Linked DNA regions of Homo sapiens. The protein of the gene in region 3 purifies or fractionates together with the protein of the main gene of each other region. This does not show direct contact. Each region holds a gene or a part of one and is shown on either strand. Other genes may lie near its edges.

The links.
Region 1: the proteins of HSDL1 (region 3) and RTN4 purify together in Homo sapiens (affinity purification with mass spectrometry; 2 studies listed by BioGRID and IntAct, with this or other methods). This does not show direct contact.
Region 2: the proteins of HSDL1 (region 3) and PITPNA purify together in Homo sapiens (co-immunoprecipitation; 2 studies listed by BioGRID and IntAct, with this or other methods). This does not show direct contact.

What each region holds. Positions count from the first base shown.
Region 1 is NC_000002.12:55,026,452-55,033,559, forward strand, and holds part of RTN4 (reticulon-4), read right to left. Parts: intron 1,770-7,108; coding exon 1,713-1,769; intron 1,035-1,712; coding exon 1-1,034. UniProt on the Homo sapiens protein: Required to induce the formation and stabilization of endoplasmic reticulum (ER) tubules. They regulate membrane morphogenesis in the ER by promoting tubular ER production.
Region 2 is NC_000017.11:1,552,758-1,559,865, forward strand, and holds part of PITPNA (phosphatidylinositol transfer protein alpha isoform), read right to left. Parts: intron 5,803-7,108; coding exon 5,772-5,802; intron 393-5,771; coding exon 247-392; intron 1-246. UniProt on the Homo sapiens protein: Catalyzes the transfer of phosphatidylinositol (PI) and phosphatidylcholine (PC) between membranes. Shows a preference for PI and PC containing shorter saturated or monosaturated acyl chains at the sn-1 and sn-2 positions.
Region 3 is NC_000016.10:84,142,129-84,149,213, forward strand, and holds the start of HSDL1 (inactive hydroxysteroid dehydrogenase-like protein 1), read right to left. Parts: upstream 3,050-7,085; 5' UTR 2,952-3,049; intron 1-2,951. Other genes in the region: DNAAF1 (dynein axonemal assembly factor 1), read left to right, coding at 3,313-3,436, 6,879-7,014.

The DNA.
Region 1 (7,108 bases), on a different chromosome or scaffold from region 3:
GCCTTCAGGCATGTTTGCCACGACTTCCTCAGTCACCTTTGTTAAATTATCTGTTGTGACATAATCTGTCTCAGAATCCTGTGCTGCTACAAGAAAAGGGTTTGATGTTTTGGTGCTAGTATTCTTCTCTGTTACTATTTGGGCCTTCTTTTCTTCTATTTTTTTTTCATCGGTCTTATTTTCTGAAGTAGGATCTCCTAACAAAGGAAAAATGTTTGTTGCAATGCTCTCAGTTGCTGCTGGGTTAAAGGGAGCACATGTGATATATGCTCCTGAACGATCCTTTATACCTTCTGGCGTACTGGGGAAAGAAGTATCATCATTACTACTCTCACTATCTTTTTCGTGATTAGTTTGCTCAAGGCTATCTGCAAAACATTTTTTATCCACTTTACTTTCCAAGTTGCTCTCGATTTTACCTCCAGCAGCCAACATATCACTATCTTCCTTACTATCTTTCACTTCCCATACTCGCTCAAATGGTTTGAAGTCTGCATATTCCTCCCTCATAGGAGCTTCCACTGCAACTCTCTTTTCATTAAAACTGTCTTTTGCTTTTTCTGAAGACACAACTTCATCCTCTTTAACCAATTTAGTAAGAGCTGTAGGTAACTCTTGTTGATTATGAAGGATGTTATTACTAACTAACTTCTCTTCTTCATCTTTATTTTTCACGATTATTTCTTCCCTAGGATTTGCTACTATTACGGCAGATTCTGCTTTTGGAGAGACACTGAACGATGATCCCATTTCTGAGTATTCTAATTCTGAAAACTCTGTTAAATCTCTATCTATGAGTAGAGTTTTTGCCTTCTCTGAGACCTCTTTAGAAGCTTCACTGACATTTTCTTGAAGTGTTCCTTCAGTGGGTAATACTGTTGACAAATTACCAAGGTATTCATGTTCTTTGAAAGAAGCGGCTGAGAGAGGAGACAGAGAAGGAAGAGAAGCAGCAGTTTCAAGCAGGACAGATGGGAAATCCTCTTGACCAGCCGAAATAGTGTTACCTGGCTGCTCCTTCAAGTCCATATTTTCTGTGACCATGGACAGAAAGGAAAGTTAGAGAATGCCAGTGTTCTCAGAGTTAATGCAAGTTTTATGACAGATCCAAAATAGTGTTAGTAAAGACTTACTGTTTACTAAAATGAAATGTTAATAGCAATTAATAAGTAACAATAGAGTAGACTTCAATCATTACTGAAAATATTAAGCTATTGTAAATATAACATATGCATGGCTACAGAGGCAATTACATGCTGTGCAAAGACAAATCAAGTCTGAGTAAACCTCAAATGTTATCAACTAAGATACTAATAGCTAGTTTTAGAGAAGAGAAGAATATCTGTGAAAAGAGTTTCGGTGACAGCATAGGAAAGAAGGGGCACTGGGTAAATGCCATAGACTGGTATTTATTTACAGGAAAGCCTTTCTGGCTATACTCAAACTGTATTTGGAGAAAGGGAATGGTAAATATGTAAATGTAATTCAAGGGTCCAAGAATTCCTTATGTACTTCCAAGTATTCATCAGATTTTGCTCATTTTTCCCTTGGGCATACCATATAAAATGCACATTTCAACTTTTCCAGTAGACAAAACATTCTCGGAACCATGCTAATTTTTAGTAAACCCAAACTACTCTGCATAGTGTTAACACACTAAAGAGTTAAAGTTAGAATACAGAGAGGATAAAAGGCTGGCAGAAAGAACTTGCCTGCAGAGGAGCGTATCACAGGCTCAGATGCAGCAGGAAGAGCAAAAAGGGTCTCATCTGAAAAACAAATAGAATATAACCTCAGCAGAAATAAAGACAGATTGAAAGGAGACTAAAGATAAGAGGAGCAAGCCAGGGTTCAGTTTGTAATAAGTTAACAAAAAACTTTACAGAGAAAGGGCCAAGATCAAAAGGAAGTCAGAAAAAGTAGTACCATTAATTCAGGTTAAATCATCATATGTATTATAAAGCTAATTAAATGTTATCCATAGAACCTATCATTTTTCAAGAGGCAATACAACCTGTTTATGTTAAAGAAACTTATGAATCAAAGTGGCTTTAAAATACTGTTCTACTTAACATATCACATCCCAAGCTTTCACTCAGGTTTTCACATAGGTAAATTGTCTTGTTCTATTCAGGCCAAAAACAAAAAGCTGAATTTGAATACAATTAACAACTACAAATGTTTAATCTTTTGTTATTGGCATATATTCAATTTAAAGAAACACTTTTAAAGAATTATGCATTTTCTCTTACATTCTAAGTTGTTACAGTCATTGTACATTGCTCTTTGAAGACATTAGTCCTGTGCCAATGTCCAAATGCCAGAGTCCAAAATACAAAAAAAAAAAAAATTAACTGCCTTTAGGATGACACCATTATTGGTTTTGCTTAAAATTAACCTAAGTGAGGGCTACTTGTTATTTGTATACACAACTAGTAAGTGAGAGACTAAGGCAATTCAATTCCAGAGCCCATTTCCTTAATCACTGTATGTTACAGAACTGAATGCTTATATTTCCTACAAAACTCATGTTAAAGCCCCAACCCCTAAAGTGATAGTATCTGAAGATGGGGACTTTGGGAGGTGATTAGGGTTAAATGCAGTCAGGGTGGGGCCCTGGGCCAAGGGGATTAATGCCCTTACAAGAAGAGACACCAGAGAGCTTGCTGTCATGCTCCCTGTCTCCCCAGGCACACACAAGAGGTCATGTGTGCACACAGTGAGATGGTGGTCACCTATAAGCCAGGAGAAGAGGCCTCAAAAAGAAATCTACCTTGCCAGCACCTTGATCTTAGACTTACCAGCCTCCAGAATTGTGAGAAGTAAATTTCTGTTCAGCCACCCAGCCTATGGTATTTTGTTACGGCAGCCCAAGCTAACTAATACACTCTATATTGGTAATATTAACTTTGTACAATGTCATCTTGTACCTGCAGTTGGGAGATCCTAAGCTAAAGATCTTCCATGGTTTACACTAGAGAAAGGCCTCTACCATCAGACAATTTGAAACAGCCTGAGAGATGACTGGAAGGTGATATTCCTTTAACAGAGAGAACCTAATAAATTTAGACAATTTCATCTGGATGGACAAGCTAGACAAGGCTGATCAAAACAGATAAAAATCCAAGAAATGTAGCTAACATGAATACGGACTTGTCTTCCAAGCATATTACCCTTAATGAATTAGGAGAGCTAACTTCACAAGGTCTTATATATTTTAGATAAATATATACTGGGCATGAAGTCATACTTAAAGGATTCCTAGATGAGGGTGATGACGGGAAATTTATGATGTGTGTTTAAAAGGGTTTCCTCCAACCTAGAGCACTAGGTAGGATGGGCTATCCAGTCAAAGGGGTAACATAATGGCTTATAAGATTTTTAAATAAAGTGCATATATATGTGTACACATATTTAAAAGATTACTTGCTATGTGATCTTAAATTACAGTTTCTCATTTGTAAAATGAAGGAAAGTTCCCTTCAGCTAAAATAATGAATTATTAGCTTGTATAAAACTGAAATTTGAGGGTCAAAGAGCAGAACCAAATAATTACGCAGCTGCTCCATCTAAATAACAGTTAACCAATTCTTAACAAAATGGTTGTCTTTTTTATCTAGACAATATAGTTAAAAGCCACTAATTCAGAGGCTAGTCTATCTGGAAAGTGAACTAGAAACATATATTACTGTTAAAGTTAGTGGGAAAACAAACTACATCTAAATTTGTGCCATAATTTTAAAGTATTTTTTTAATGTACTGTACTCTTATTCCTACCTAGTGCAATAATCTTTTATAATAAAAACTATATTCCTGGAATTTTTCTAAGTAAAAAAGTTTTCAAATTGGTATTTCAAAGATTCATTATGTTTAAGAAAAAAAGAAAAATCTTCATTTTGTAAAATGGGATTCGATCCAGTTACCCATAAAACAAGTACTACATTTCTAAAAGCTCTTTAAAAAAATCCAGAATAGTTAACTATCTTCTGGGACTTCAAGAATACAGTTCAGACTCCTAATAAAGCAATCACAGATCATGAAATTGAATTGCCTAAGTCCAAATCACAAATCCATCACTTACAACTGTAACTCTTAGCCTTTCTGTGCCTAATGAAACTTGTAAAATAAGGATAATAAGAGTACCCACCTAAAAATGTTGTGAAGGAGGGAGAGGGAAAGAAAAAAGAAGAAACAACTTGCCCTAAGTCACAGAACTAGGAGGCCAGAGGGTCAAAACATCTAATTCCCAAGTCTTTGTGCTTTATAATTATTATTATTTTTTGGCTAGGCTTCCTCAAAGCACGAGATGTGCTTCATCTTCTGAAGGATGTATTTATGTACAAGTGCAACTGGTGCAATCCTTCTTACTGTATCAGCCCCTCAAGTTAGTTCTCCTGAAACAAGGTAAATCGTCACCCAGTAAATACCTTGTAATTAGCAGAAATATTGCATTGATCAATTGCTTCTATTTTACAATGTAACAACATTTATAGAAACATTAATGTGGGACAGGTACTGTGCTGAGCCGGCACATTTGTTTCAGATGTTCATTCTGTTCTCAAAACTACCCTGTAAGGTAGGTACTACTGTTACCCCCATTTCACATACGAGAAAAGAGGCATTTAAATCATATCTAATTACAATACTACAAAAAACCTGCATTTTAAAACCATAGAACTTCTGCTTCTGGCTATGAGAGTAATTACAACAGACTAATTCTTCCAATATAAGCAACTAAAAATATGGGCAAAATACTAGAAGCAACTATCTTGAGACACTGGACAAGAGGCAGGACAGCAGTGTGAATCCTGAGAAAAGGGAAACCTGCAAGATGACTACGCTGCTTTCTGTCTGAAGGCACATTCTGGTCTACAGTACAGAGAGAAGCCTAAGAATACCGCACTCTTGCTAAGCTGAGGAGGCTGAGGAGTTGTCTGGAATTTGTGAGACAGGGTAACATACAAAGTAAAGCCTCACAGAAAAGGAGCTCCAAAAATCTGGATAGGGGTTCCTCTTAAACCTCTGGGTGAATACTACGCTGCATGTGCACAGCACAAGACTCGGCAAGGCCTAGCCAAGAAACCTATGGTAGAGCTGCAAATTAACTGGATTATATCGAAGGTCAGAAAGTGCTGAAGACCTGATCTAAAAATTCTGACCAGTCAGAAAGGAAAGATCTCTCTAAACACCTCAAGCAGGACTACTCTAAGCCTAAAGGATACTCTAGACCAAGAGTCAGCAAACCATGGCTCATGAGCCCATATTGTATTGGAACACAGCCACGCCCATTCACTTCTGTGCTGTCTATAACTACTTTTGCACAATAAAAACAGAGACGAACAGTTTAGACAAAGGCTGTATGGCCCACAAGCCTAAACTATTTACTCTAACTGGCCCTGTAAGTCTGCAGACCCCTACCTCTAGACCCACCCTAACTTTAAAATCAAAACTTGAAAGGATCAAAATGATTTTCCAGCAAATTAACTGCCTGCCAGAACAAAGTTAAAACCACCAAATCCATGACATGCAGTATAAAATAAATTAATGGACATGCAAAGCAGCAAGAAAATATGACCATAAATAAGAAAGAATAGCAAATATAAACAAACAAATAACGTAGACGTTGGATTCGCACTTTTTTTTTTTTGAGGCGGAGTCTTGCTCTGTCACCCAGGCTGGAGTACAGCGGGGCTATCTTGGCTCACTGCAACCTCCACCTCCCAGGTTCAAGCAATTATCCCACCTCAGCCTCTGAGTAGCTGGGATTACAGGTGTCTGCCATCACACCAAGCTAATTTTTGTGTTTTTAGTAGAGACGGGGTTCACTACGTTGGCCAAGCTGGTCTCAAACTCCTGACCTCAAGTGATCCGCCAGCCTCAGCTTCCCAAAGTGCTGGAATTACAAGTGTGAACTAACACACCTGGCCTGGATTAGCAAATATTAAAATGAAAATTAAAATAGCTATTAAGATATTAAGTACAGAAAAAGACAGACATATAGAGTAGACAGGGAATCTTGGTGGAGAAATATAGACTAAAGGACCAAATGGAGATGCTAGAATTGTAAATTATATTAACTGAAAATAATCACTAGATGAGCTTAAAGGCAGATTAGACAATACAGAAAAAAAGATTTATTGATAAACAAACTTAAAAAACAACAACAGAAAGTATCCAAACTGAAACACAACAAGGGAAAAGGGCAAGTGAAAAAAGGAACAGAGCCTCAGTGCTGAGAGACAATCAAGGAGTTAAAATACCTATAATTGCAGTCCCCTTAAAAAAAGCAACAGTGGCCAGGCATGGGAGCTCATGCCTGTAACCCCAACACTTTAGGAGGCCAAAGTGGGAGGACCACTTGAGGCCAGGAGTTGGGACACCAGTTTGGACAACACAGTGAGACCCTATCTCTACAAAAAACTTAAAAATTAGCCGGTGTAGTGGTGCACACGTGCAGTTCTAGCAACTCAGGAGGCTGAGATGGGAGGATCACTCAAGCCCAGGAGTTTGAGGCTGTAACAAGCCATGATCACGCCACTGCACTCCACCCTGGACAACACAGTTAAGACCCTGTCTCTTTAAAAAAGACTGAAGAAGTTAAAAAAAAAAAAAAAGAAAAAATGGCCTAAAATTGGACAGAAGTTGGCATTTTGAAAATACCAACCAACAGAGCCACAAAGCTCAATGTACTCCAAGCAGAATAAACACAACACCACAAAAAGGCACACCATAAGGGTCAAACTGAAAATCAAAGATAGAGACAACCCTAAAAACAGTCAGAGGAAAAAAGCAGGTAAACAACAATAAGAATGACCTCACCTCTCATTGATGTAATCCAAAAGGTAATGAACGCCTTTAAAGTTATGAAAAAACTGACAATCTAAAATTATATACAGATGATCCTCATTATTCATGGATTCCTTATTTGCTCATTTACCTGCTCACTAAATTTGTAGCCCCAAAATCCATACTTGCAGCACTTTCAGGACATGCAATGAGCAGAGCAGGCAAACCAGAGCGGGTCATCCAAAGTACAAGTTCCCAGCTGAGATGGAACAAGGTAACCCTACCGCCTTCTTGTTTCAGCTCTGCCACTGACTTCCCTGTT
Region 2 (7,108 bases), on a different chromosome or scaffold from region 3:
ACTTCAGAGACCGAGGCAGACAGAACAGGCTGGGAGAGGAGGCCATGATAAGTAACAACAAAAAAGGAATAGTATATTCCCATCTATATAAATGTGAGTATAACATTTATACAGTCAGTATATAACTATTAATTGTTAGGATATAACAATTAGTATAATCCCATCTATATAAAACAATAAAGGAAATAACACTCATTCACACACACACAAAAGCCAGCATCCGGCCCCGCTGCTCATGCCGCATACCTCTGCAGGTGGTAGATCTTGTGTGTGTACTGGCCTTTCTCACCGTCCTTCTCGTAGGGCTCATTCACCAGGACCTCCACGCCTTCGCCACCACCCGTTTCATTTTTACTGGCCTCAGCCACAGAATACAGCTGCCCCACTTGATACTAAAGGACAGAGACAGATGTTATTCTCAACACGGACCCTTCTCAACGGTTACACGTAATCCAGCTGCCAGTAAGTGTCTAACTGGATCTCCCTGGGGTCTCCTCATGCAGGAGCTGGTTCTGGAGTTTCACATCAGGCCTTGCCCAAACCCACCCAAAGCAACTGACAGTGCTGCTCCATGGCCCCTCTTGACCCATCAGACGTGTTTAGTTCATCCTTCTCATTTTCACACCACCCATCAGGGTTTATTTTTATTTATTTATTTTTTTTGGTAGAGACAGGGTCTTGCTATGTTGCCCAGGCTGGTCTCAAAACTCCTGGTCTCAAGCCATCCTCCCACCTTGGCCTGCCAAAGTGCTGAGATTATAAGCATGAGCCACCGTTCCCAGTCAATCCATCAGGATTTAAAGAGGCAGGTGAGTCTACTTAACCTGACACCACCACGCAGAAAACAGATTAGAGTCCAAAGGAGCTTTTGTGCTAAGCCTGCTTCTGGTATTAAGACCCCAGAAGACCTAGGTTGGTTGCTAGAAATCACTGGATCTCACCCATTTAAATAGATCCTAAGACTTGATTTCTTGTCAAAGAAAGGTGCTCAGCGCTCTGTGAAATCCGCAACCTCTATCGTAAAACTGGCTCATCTACTCGCTTCTTCTCTAGTCTTAGGCCTCTCCTCACCCCGCAAGTAGCTCTTTCAGGCAATGAAACCTCTTGACATTTTCCAGATTCCTGGTGGGGCCAAGCAAGTATTCCTGCTTCCCACATGAGATATTACAGATTCCTGCCCCACAGTCTGTGCCGGCTGGGTGCACCCTCTGTGTTGGCACTTACTACATGGCAAAAACCTAGTTTTCCTTTATTTGGGTCACATGCCACCCTATCAAGTCACCAGTCAACATGATTGGCCTCCTCTGACCCTGTCAGGATGGGCCAATGACCTAGGCAGTGCCCAGACTTAGCCCTTCCGCCTTCTTCTCTGAGAAGCTGTCCAGAGGAGAAAACAAGGTGAAAAGAAAATGAACAGCAACATTTGAGGCAGGAAATTATGTCTACACCAACGGATGTGTCTTTCCTACCGCTGCCGGTGCTAATCAGGCATGGCTGCTTAGGGAGTATGAGAAAAAGGAAAAAAGCTATGGGATTACCCAACATGCTGGGGGGTGGAGGGGGACAAAGGGTTTCCTCGAGCTCTATGCCCAACTCCTGGCACCCCCGGGGGGAAGACAAGGGTGTTTCTCTATTTTTTTTTTTTTTTTTTTTTTTTTTTAGACAGAGATCGCACAGTGGTGCGATCTCAGGTCACTGCAACCTCCGCCTCCTGGGTTCAAGTGATTCTCCTGCCTCCTGCCTCCTGCCTCAGCCTCCGAAGTAGCTGGGATTACAGGGACTGGGTTTTTCTCTCTTTGAGATTAAAACAGAAAGGATGTATCTCTAGGCAACTGCTACTTAAATCACTGCCTCCAACAGCAAGGACAGAGGCAGCTTCCAGAGCTGCTTCGCCTCAAACTTAGAAACCTGCTCTACCAGGCAGCTTCCTAAGCACTGCAGGGAAATTTCTGGGCAAAATCTGGAAAGTGAAGCAGAGGACGAGGACAATTCACTGCTCACCACAAGGCTGAAAGAGCCCTAACTTTCAAAGCAAAATCCCAGAACAAAATGCCATGAAAAGGGGCAGCAATCGAGGCTCAGTGAAATCCATACAGAGGAACATATGGGTGAAAGCCAGTCACCTTGACCTTGCTAATCCTAAGCTGCATCAGTGCTGCCTCAATGCCCCCCTGGAGCCCCAAGCTGTCCCTGTGCCTCTCCAAGTCCACCACCCAGCTAGGCACACATGAAAACCCGTCAGGTGGGTCAGGGCTTGGCTGAGCCAGGGGTGCCTAAGAAGGAGCAGTAACTCCGTTTCAGAGAAGAGCCGTAAGAACATCTAACCACTGACTCAGCAATCCTAAAGGACAGGCTGGGGAGAGGGCCTGGTGGAGGGGGCGAGGTTCCCAGCTAGTGGTACCACTTGGGAAGGGGGACCCCAGGCAGAGACTAATCGCCTTCATTTGGTTTCTCTTCAGCTGCAGGAATCAGAGGGCAGGTTCTAAGAGGATCAGCCTGTTGGCTGGCATCTTCCCCCTTCAATCTCTCTTGATATTCTGATCCTTTAATCCCAATGAGACAAGTGAAGGCAGTTTTGTTAATCTAAAGGGGTAAGCAAGACTGGCCTGCACAAGCTACAAGTGAAGGGCGCTTTTCACGTTAGAGTTCCTTTTGGCACAGCTGCTCTGCCCCCTGGGAAAGCAGCCAGACTCGGATGGGGCAGAGATAGGAGTGGGAGGGTCAGATCATTAAATCAGATTTAAAAAACTCCAACAGGACTGGGAATCTAGCCTCCTCAGACCTGCGATGATGTTCCTTGCTCTTGAGATCTGTTCACCTATCCCAGAGAACTAAGACATTCAACTAAGAAAAACAGACTCCACAACTTTGGCAATCTGGGAGGGGGAGCCCAGTGGGTGGGCCTGAAATACTGACATGAAACACGTCATAAACAACAGTACAGCTTTGGTCCCACCAACATGGCCCTGTCAGGCTGGGTACCAGAGGGGGACTGGTGCCGTGAATCTCTGGAAACAAGAAGTGAAGCAGCCCGGCCGACCTGTGCCAGGAAGCACTGGTGGACACACCCCGTCAAACAGCCAGGGCTTTCTCGCTCTGCTGCACAACGCCCAGACACTCAGGGTTAGACCAAAGGCTCTGGCCACCCAGAAGCTAATTCTGCCCCCAAAATATTGATGCAGGCCATCGGAATGATTACAAAGGCATGACCTTCTCTTTCCCTTTCTTCACTTTCCCCTAAATCAGAAAACTGCAAAGGCCTCAAGTCATGGCCTCCAATTTAGGAAGTGAATCCACCAGTCACAAGATGCTGAGCTGTTCCCATAGAAACTGTTAAGTCAGGATGGGGATGGGGTTACTGACAAAGACTCTGAGAAGGTTGATCATGAATTGTTTCTTCTTCGGCCTTCCCCTCCAAGATTTTTCTAATTCTCTGAAACTAAGTTCCGCTTCGACCCTACCCAGGCCACGTGGTACTTTCTTGTCAATGGTTTCTTGCTGAGAACGGGCTGACCACTGCCAGGCAGACAGGTGAATCCTGATCAGCACTCACTTCCCAAGCTTCTGCTTAGACTTCAGGCTCTGATTACTCAACTCCGCCCCACCACTTCCTCAATGCTGCAGAAAAACCATCACAAGTGAACACCCGCCAACTGTGGATGCTCTCAAGGTGGAAGTTCCCCTTTCCTTCCAGTCTTGGCCCCACCATAAGCCATCAGTGTCTGGCCCTTCAGCCTTACTCCAAGAACAGCCCCAGGTGCTCCAGGACAGGCTGGCCCTCCTTGGTCTGCAGCACTTCTCAGAGACACTCTCGCCCTTCGTTCCATCAAGAAACTCCCTATCAAAGGATCCATTTCACCCCTAATCACCACACTAAGGAAATCCCGAGTTCCTGGGGCACATCTTCCTAACGATCGGGGTGGGATCATCCTGTACAGCAGAGAGGACGTCACTGGACACCTCCCCAAGAGCTGAGTTTGAGGGCAAGGGACGCGCTGGGCTTTCCTGCTTGGCCTTCTGGTTTGGAAAATCATCGCTTGCTATTTTCAATAAAGACAGCACAGGCTGGGTGAAGTGGTTGACATCTGTAATCCCAGCACTCTGGGAGGCTGAGGCAGGAGGACTACTTGAGGCAAGACCAGCGTGGACAACAGAGTGAGACCCTATCTCCACTATTTAAAATAAATATTATAAAATAAAAAAAATAAAGACAGCATGGCCAAAGCAGGTGGGTTAACAAGACCCTTCCAAGCCAACACCTGTCAGCCCAGGCACCTGGTTCTCAGGCCCCAGGTACATCCCCAGTGCCTACAGGGATTAGAGCCATCTACCCAGCCATTCCCTCATTCTCCCTGGTTCCCAGGTTCCCCAGTCTCGTTTCTCTTTTCTGCCCTTCCCAGAACCCCAAGATCACGGTCAAGGCCCACCTCTGGCCCCCTCCCCAGGTCCCCACAGCTCTTATCAGATATGTAGCCCACCCCTGGAGGCAGTCCTCTAAAGGGCCAGTGTCTGCCCACCCCTCTCGGGGGCCAACAAGCCTGGATGTCTGTCTCAACTAAATGTGCTGCAGGCTCTGCTGGCCTGATTTCATTTTTCAAAGGTGCAGTTCATATTGGGAACAGAGTGGAAGTTATCACAGGAGCTTCATGCTGACACTGCAGGAAAGAGAGACGGAGCCCAGTGACTGGAGGCACTATACTGGCTGACGAACCTCACCCAAACTCGAGTTTAACTGGAAGCTGGGGCGGGGTGGGGCTGTGATTTCAGAAGGAAGCAAAGAACAAGGCTGCGCCAGGAGAGGAGAGTGGAAGAAGTTCAGAGAAAGAGTGAGACAAGGGAGGTTCCGTGACAGTTTTCCGTTGTCCAAGAGACTGACTCTGAGTCAGCATGGCCTATGAACCTTCTTACAGCAAATCCTGCTGCCAGATCCCCACATACAAGGATGTCAGACCCAGGAACCGTAAAAGGACAGAGGACAAGCCAAGCCTATGTGTTATTCCCTGCCCTTCGTAAAAGGAGGGTTCTGTGTCTTGGTCTTTCCAGCAGTCACCTATCGTGGCTAGGGAGAGCCTCAAGAGATTTCCTGCCCTGCTGGTTTGTTGCACAACCAGAAAGAGCCACGCACACTTGCCAGCCGAGTCACGGACGTCCCAGAAATGCACACACTTGATCCCATCAATAATGCGTCCCCGGCCGGGTGTGGGGGCTCACGCCTGTCATCCCAGCACTTTGGGAGGCTGAGGCGGGCGGATCACTTGAGGTCGGGAGTTTGAGACCAGCCTGGCCAACATGGTGAAAGCCCATCTCTACTAAAGATATAAAAATTAGCCGGGTGTGGTGGCACACACCTGTAATCCCGGCTACTTGGGAGGCTGAGGCAGGAGAATAGCTTGAACCCACGAGGCAGAGGTTGCAGTGAGCGGAGATCGCACCACTGCACTCCAGCCTGGGAAACTGAGCAAGACTCCGTCTCAAAAAAAAAAAAAAAAAAGGGTCCCCAGACATGCACAGCCCCAGCAGATAAAAGGGGCTGGTTTAATCTCTACTCATCCAGCATACCAACAGCTTGGGACAGGTTGCACACAGTTACCCAGATATACAAAGTAAGTGCCATTTTTCAACTGAAAGTGGCACCACGAAATTCACATTGAAATATTTATGTTAGAACAAATAAGAAAACTATATAAACAGGATAACCACTCAGAGCCCAGCTTAGCCAATGGTCACAAACAGTTACACACAACTATGGACCAGAAAGTAAAAGGACTTACCTCATCTACAGACACAGGCAGGATTACTCGACTATAAGAAAGGGAAAAGAGAGTATCAACTTTAGGCTGTGCAATCTGCTCAAGGCTCTTTAAAGCATCATCCTAAAACAGTCAGCAGCATTCTATTGTGTAAGACACTAAATTCAGTGACGAAAACCCCACAGAGAATGGCCCTTTGAGTGCTCTGAGGACAGGACCCTCTGTGCCCTAGAGGTGTAAGACACTAAACTCTGTGACAACACCCCCCCCCCGCCCCCCCCCCCAGAGAATGGCCCTCTTAGTGCTCTGAGGACAGGACCCTCTGTACCTTGAGGCATCCCAGTTAGAACCCTGTGATTCAGTCCAAACCTATCCTCCCGCCAGCTACTTCCCAGGCCTCCACCTCACATTCGGAACTGGACATATGGATGATAAACTTCACCCAAACTTGCCAATGAGTCGTCCCCCCAACAAGACTTGCCAGTGAGTCTAGTAAGACAGGTTAACACAGGAGGACCTATCATGGTGAGGATTCAGACCCAAACAAGAGGCCCTGGGGACTTAAATTTCTGTGGACCCAACCTCCCAACAACAGCCCTCCAGGGGAAGGGCCAGGAAGGGACCAAGCCCCTTGAAGCCTAAGAACACACACCGGGCATCTCTGCTCGGGGCTGGATATTACAATCCAAGCTGCTACCACAAAGCCACCAAGAGGGCATTCAACTTATGTCCTGACCTCCAGGAGCTGTCCAAAGGAATCCCAATTTATCATTTTCTTTTCTTCTTCTCCAACTCAATGACCACCAATTGCTGGAGATGCCACCAGCAACCTATTGGAGAAGCCGTGGCCGGCAAAGTCTCCGCCAGGGCCAGAACCCCACAGAGGTGCCAGGGCTAGCAGCACTTCTCCAGGTGCCGTGCATGTGAAATGCAGACCAAGAGCCACCCCCAGTTCAAAGCTGTGAGGCGGGAGAGCTAAGACAAAAACTCTTGGTTTTACCCATACAAGTCCAGCCAGTTTCCAAGCTTAGACGTTCGGTCCCCAGACCCTTGCTGGAGCCCTCTGGGTCCTTTTGTGTCTTGCATGTTTAGTGAAGCATTAGGGAAGCATGAGCTGCTGTGCCTTCCTTATGCAGCCGGCTCACCACTCAGGCTCCTTGCTCCAGGCTAGTAAACAGCTATTTTCTAGTTCCACAAAGGTCCCCCAGGAAGCAAGAAGGACACAGAGGGGTCTGAGGAAAACATCACCTCAAAGGCAAGACACCAAGCAGGAAAGTAGCAGGAAAAACAAAATGGGCTCCAAGTCTTTACTGCCTGCTAACAACTCCCTTCCTCCAGAGCAACTCAAACAACATAAA
Region 3 (7,085 bases):
TGTTGCCCAGGCTGGTCTCAAACTCGTAAGCTCAAACCATTCACCTGCCTTGGCCTCCCAAAGTGCTGGGATTACAGGTGGGAGCCACTGCACCTGGCTGAATGTCTTAATTTTGAAAGAGACAAATATATCAATCTTTCTGCTTTAGGGTTTGTTTTATTTCAGAAATCCCTCCTTAGCCTCAGGTCATGAAGAAATTTTTTCGAATTATTTTCTAGAAATTTTACATTTTTGCTTTTTCAGTTTAAGTCTTTAATCCTCCTGGCGTTTTGTGATGGTGTGAGGCTGGGATCTCACACATCTTTTTTTTTTTTTTTTTTTTTTTGAGACAGAGTCTCACTCTGTCACCCAGGCTGGAGTGCAATGGCGCGATCTTAGCTCACTGCAACCTCCTCCTTCCAAGTTCAAGCAATTCTTCTGCCTCAGCCTCCCAAGTAACTGGGACTACAGGCGTGTGCCACCATGCCTGGCTAATTTTTGTATTTTTTTCTTTTTTAGTAGAGACGGGGGTTTCACCATATTGGCCAGGCTGGTCTTGAACTCCTGACCTTGTGATCCGCCCACTTTGGCCTCCCAAAGCACTGGGATGTGACCGGCCGGATCTCACACATCTTTAATATTCCTCCTCAGCACCTGACATGCTGCTGTAGACAACTTTATTTAATAAACAGAATCAAATACTGCTTTGTGTTCAAAGCTCAAATTTCACTCTTGAGAAAAAAACTTAAGCTTTTCATACTCTGCGTCAGCACTATGACAAAGTTAGCATTGGTGTATCAAGACTTTTTGGGATGTCTTTACCTTCACTGCCAATTTTTGGTATAGGACTAAACGCACAATGAAGCTGAGCCTAAAGAGCAGCAACATGGAATTAGAAACCTGGATTCTCATCCAAGATCCAACACTCTTCACCATCATGTCTGTATTTATGCAGTAAGAATTAAAATATTCAGAGTACCCCACTCCTAGGCAGATACCCAAGATAATTAGAAACTTTTGCTCACATAAAAACTCCTGCTTGCATGTTCACAGTGGCCTACTCACAACTGCCAGAAGGCAGAAACAAACAAAATGTCCATCAACAAATGAATGAATAAGCAAAATGTGGTGTTATCCACACAAAGGAGTATTATTCAGCCATAAAAAAGCATGAAGTACTGATACATACTACAACATGGATAAACTTTGAAAACATTATGCTAAAGGACAGAAACCAAATACAAAAGGCCGTATGTTGTATGTTTCCACTTGTATGAAATGTCCAGCATAAGCAAATCCATAGAGACAGAAGATAACTTAGGGCTGCTGAGGGACAGGGGGAGAAAAGAGGTATGACTGTTAATGGGGTTGGGGTTTCTTTTGTAGGTGATTAAATGTTCTGGAATTAGTTACTGGTGATGGTTGCATAGCATTGTGACTATAGCAAGAACTACTGAGTTATACACTGTAAAATGGCTAAAATGATAAATTTTATGTCATGCGTAAGTCATTTCGATTTTTGAAAACCTACTTTAAAAAAAAGTAGCACCAATATGTTCAACTCTGTTGCCCTAGAATATTCCAGCAGTGATTAAAACCACAAACTTGGCCGGGTACAGTGGCTCATGTCTGTAACCCCAGAACTTTGGGAGGCCAAGGCGGGCAGATCACTTGAGGCCAGGAGTTCAAGGCTACCCTGACCAACACAGCGAAACCCCGTCTCTACTAAAAAAAAAAAAAAAAAAATTAGCTGGGTGTGGTAGAACGTGCCTGTAATCCCAGCTACTCGGAAGGCTGAGGCAGGAGAATCACTTGGGCCCGGGGTGCGGGATGGCGGGCAGAGGTAGCAGGAGCTGAGATCGCAGGCACCATTGCACTACAGCCCGGGCGACAGAGCGAGATTGTCTGAATCAATCAATCAATCAACACCCTCCCCCTCCCCCTCCCTCTCCCTCTCCCTCCCTCCCTCTCTCTCTCTCTCTCTCTCCTGTGGCGGTCAGAGTAAAATTGAGAGCTCACTTTATGCAAAAGACTCTGCTAAGTGCTTTATTCCTATTGTCTCACTTTATTCTCTCATTAATCTTATAAAGCGCAGTCAGACTCTCCCGTTTATAGATGGGGAAATTGAGTCTTATAGATGTAAAGTCGCACACCCAAGACCCCACAACTCAGAAAGGGGCTACCTGCAATTCAGATGGAGGTATAGCAAGGCGCAGAGTCCTGTCCAGGGAGCCCACTGTGAGACCCCCCGACTGCCTCGCAGTCACCTGTACACATCATGTTGGGATCGCCGAGGGGCGCTGCAGCGATCCGGTTTCTGGGGCTGCGTCTGGGTGGCACGTTCAGAACGGGGACCTGCCTGGTTCTTCTTCCCAGCCCTTCCCCTCCAGCACCCGGCAAGGCCCAGTCAACACGAGCAAACTCGGAAATCCTGGCTGAACCCACGACCGCTGCATATTTCCATTTTAGAAAAACACGGCAACAACAACTCAAACCAAATCGTTCAGAAATGAGAATAAAGAAGCACCGACAAAGGAGGCGATTGCTGGGGCCGCTCGGGGGAGGAGCCGGGTGAGAGGCTGCAGGGAGGGCAGGGCATGCGCCGGCGACAACGGGGTTCGCGGTTTGGGGGGCAAGGCCCGGGGGAAGAGAGAGAACAGGGGTGCAGCGCCGCGGCGGGGGGCGTGAGGATGGAGCCGGGGGAAGGGGGGCTCTGAGATGTGAAGGGGCGGGGCTGGGGCTTTTTGGTCTGAAGGAAGGAGTCTCACGGGACGGAGGGACGAAGATTTCCTGGGGTCAGGGGCGCCAAGGGGCTTCGGGGCCGGATGCAGCGGAGGGGGCCCGGGGCCTGGGGGGCGTGGTGAGAGCTCAGAGGGGTCTCGCCAAGCAGCCGGCTGGCGCTGAGGGGACCGAGGAGGGGTCTGGGGCGAAAGGACCGCGAGAGGGCGCCCAGGGCGCGGGGGGCGCGGTACCTGCAGGCCGGCAAAGTCTTCCAAACCGGTCCCGCCAGACCCGCGCGGCCGCCGCCCCCGTCTCGGCCGCCGGAGCTGCTGCCGCGCCGCGCCCTCACGTGACCCGCGTACGCGCCGGGGGCGGAGCCGTCTCAGACCCGCCCCCACCCCCCGGCGTCCCCAGCGCGCCGGTCCGTCCCGAGTGCGCGTGCGCAGCGGTTGCCTGGGCGACCGGGGAAGCGTTGGGCTGTAAAGACTAGGGCGCCAGCGGCTGGCGAAGAAGGAAAGAGGGTACTCTCTGGCTGGGCTGGGGCCGTAGCGACGTCCGCCGCGAACCTGGGCCCCCCAAAGCTGCGGGGCGTTCGGTGTCGCCGAAGTAAACATGCACCCTGAGCCCTCGGAGCCTGCGACAGGTGGTGCAGCAGAGCTGGATTGCGCGCAGGAGCCCGGCGTGGAGGAGTCTGCGGGTGACCACGGGAGCGCAGGCCGAGGGGGCTGCAAGGAAGGTGCCGACTGCCCCCCAGGGAGGGCGGTGGGCGAGGGGCAGACACGGCTAGGCGCTCCAGCCCCCTTCCCACACCACATACCCGATCTTCACAGCCAAATAATAACAATAATAATAATGGTAGCAAGCAACGCTCTGCAGTAGGGGCTTCTCTCGCCATTTCGTACTGAGGAGGAAACATACTTAAGAGGTTACAAAACTTGCACCAAACAGATAACCCTCGGCTAGTCAGTGACAGAAGAGACTTGGCCGGGTGCGGTGGCTCAACGCCTGTAATTCCAGCACTTTGGGAGGCCGAGGCGGGCGGATCATCAGGTCAGTCAGGAGTTCGAGACCAGCCTGGCCAACATAGTGAAACCCTGTCTCTACTAAAAATACAAAAAATGAGCTGGGCGTGGTGGCGGGCGCCTGTAGTCTCAGCTACTTGGGAGGCTGAGGCAGGAGAATCGCTTGAACCCGGGAGGCGGAGGTTGCAGTGAGCCAAGATCTCGCCATTGCATTCCAGCCCGGACGACAGTGGGAGACTCCGTCTCAAACAAACAAACAAACAAACAAGCAAACAAAACCCACCAGACTCAGGCCCAGACAGTCTGGGTCTCCAGAGCCCCAGCCCTAACCCACCACGCTATTCTCCCTGGTCCCAACTTTGATGCTTTAAATGTGTCCCTTTATTGCTATCACTATGTAAGATCAAAGGCTTTCTCTCCCTCCAGACTGCATGTTGTGTCAGGGCAAGACATCTTGATTGAATTTGGAGTCTAGTCCAGTGCCTGACCTAGGGTAGAGAGTCCGAATGAAGACTTGGTTCTGGGGTCAGTGTGTGATCCCCTCACCAAAGTTTGCCAGAATGGACTTGAAAGATAACCTTCATGGCCAGGCACGGTGGCTCACGCCTGTAATCCCAGCAATTTGGGAGGCAGAGGCAGGTGGGTCACCTGAAGTCAGGAGTTCGAGACCAGTCTGGCCAACATATTGAAACCCTGTCTTTGCTAAAAACACAAAAATTAGCAGGGCGTGGTGACGTGCTCCTGTAATTCCACTTACTTGGGAGGCTAAGGCAGGAGAATTCCCTGAACCCCGGAGGCAGAGGTTGCAGTGAGCCAAGGGGGAGGCTGAGGCTGCAGTGAGCCAAGATCACACCACTGCACCCCAGCCTGGGCAATGGAGCAAGACTCCGTCTCAAAAAAAAAAAAGGAAAGAAGGAAGCCTGGCTTCAGCTTCTGCTCCCACTAGACTTGGTGCCCTAAAGGAAACCTTTTAGTGATTACATTAAAAAACCACTTGATTTGTGTTCCAGTTTCTGAACGCAGGCAACAAATAAACCAGCTGATTTGTGTTCCAGGCAACAAATATATCTTAAGCATCAACTGTCCAGATGAACCTTGTATGAGGAGCCATAGGGAACTGGCATTACTCAGTGGAAAGACACTGGTCTTGGAGCCATTGACACTGGGTTCAAGTTGAGGCTCAGCAGCTGGCCAGCTTTATGGCTGTTGGCCCAGAGCTTAACCTCTCGGAGCCTTAGTCTCCTCATCTGTAAGCTGGAATAATTATACAGGAGTATAAGGAGAGAATTATAATTAAATGTCCCAGCATATAGTGGGCCATTATTAAATGGTAGCTCTTGTTATTAATTACATATTAATATTTATATATTGAGCGCTTATTCTTTATTTTTTCCACAAACATTTATCTGTTGCTTCCTGTGGCTGGGCATTCTATGCAAAATTGATGAGTTTAAGAACCAGTCCCCACACGCACAGCCTTTAGTCTTGTTCAATAGACCACACAAACACAGAAAGCAGCAGACAACAGCTCTTAAAGTTAAGTGCGGTTGAATTGGCCAATTTTGAATGACCTTTAAAAAAATTATTCATTTGAATGTGCTCATGTTATTGTTATCATAGATATTCTCACTATTTTTGTTTCTTTTCATGTGATTTTCCTTTTTATGATTTTTTTTTTAAGAGATGGAATCTCACTATGTTACCCAGGCTAGATCTTCCTGCCTCAGCCTCCTGAGTAGCTGGGACTACAGGCATGCTCCACTACACCTGGCTTCAGAAATTTTTTAAAAGACAAAAGAACAAAGAACATTAAAACAAATACCCGTGTTTTGCCAGCAAGAATTGAAAATGAGTAACATTTTATCATATTTATTTGAAGTCTTTTTTAATTAAAGAAATAAGCCCCCCCCAAAAAAAAAATAAAAATAAATAAGGGTGGGCACGGTGGCTCACGCCTGTAATCCCAGCACTTTGGAAGGCCAAGGCGGGTGGGTCACCTGAGGTCAGGAGTTTGAGGACAGCCTGGCCAACATGGGGAAACCCCGTCTCTACTAAAAATACAAAAAAATTAGCTAGGCATGGTGACAGGCGCTGGTAATCCTAGCTACTTGGGAGGCTGAGGCATGAGAATCGCTTGAACCCGGGAGGCGGAGGTTGCAGTGAGCTGAGATCCCGCCACTGCACTCCAACCTGGGGGATAGACCAAGACGGTCTCCAAAAAAAAAAAGAAATAAAACATTTCACATAGAGTTGGTGTTCCTTTTCTCCCCTGTACCCCACCCCGTTTCTAATCCCATTCCTTTCCTCCCTTGTCCAGAATTTTATATGAATTCTTGCAAGCACTTCTCTATACATGTATGCCCTGAAACAGTGTATAGTATTGCTTTGCATATTTTTAATTTATATATGGTATCCTGTGCTTATTTTGAAACTTGCTTTTTTCACTCCATATACGTTTCTGAGAATTATCCCTATGGATAGATGTAGTTCTAGTGCATTCTTCTCAAAGGTAGAAAAGCAAGTCATTGTTTTATGTAACCAGCCCCTATGGATGGACATTTACGTTGTTAACAGTTTTTGGCTTTTATAAAAAAAAACGCAGAAACAAATCTCTTTGTCCATGTTTTCTTGTGCACCTGTACAAGAGTTTTTATAGAGGATCTACCTAGAAGTGAAATTTACATAGTCTTTGCCAATGCTTTAAAAATTGTTACACATTTAAAGATTACTGTTCTCTCTCTCTCTCTTTTTTTTTTTTTTTTTTGGTGAGACGGGGTCTCACTTTGTTGCCAGGCTGGAGTACAGTGGTGTGAACACAGCTCACTGCAGCCTTGACTTCCCAAGCTCGAGTGATCAACCTGCCTCAGCCCCACAAGTAGCTGGGAATACAGGCACGCACCACTACATCTGGCTAATTTTTGTAGAGATGGGGTTTTGTCATGTTGCTCAGGCTGGTCTCAAACACCTGGGCTCGAGCAATCTACCTGCCTCAGCCTCCCAAAGAGCTGGGATTACAGGCCTGAGCCACCATACCCAGCCACTAAAGAATACTGGTGTTCTATACTAAAAGTGGATGGTCATTAACCAAGCTGAAGTTGGGGGTATTTTTTGGCATATATCTTGATCTCTACAGACCTGATCTCTTTTATTTTACAGAAATTAATGATCCTAAGGAAATATGTGTGGGTTCTTCTGACACATCCTACCACAGCCAGCAGAAACAGAGTGGTGATAATGGGTCAGGTGGTCACTTCGCACACCCAAGAGAAGACAGGGAAGATCGGGGCCCCAGGTATGTGGGCATACTCCTAATTAGTGCACATTTATGGAGTAAGGTAGATGGCGTAATCACCCCCTTGTACG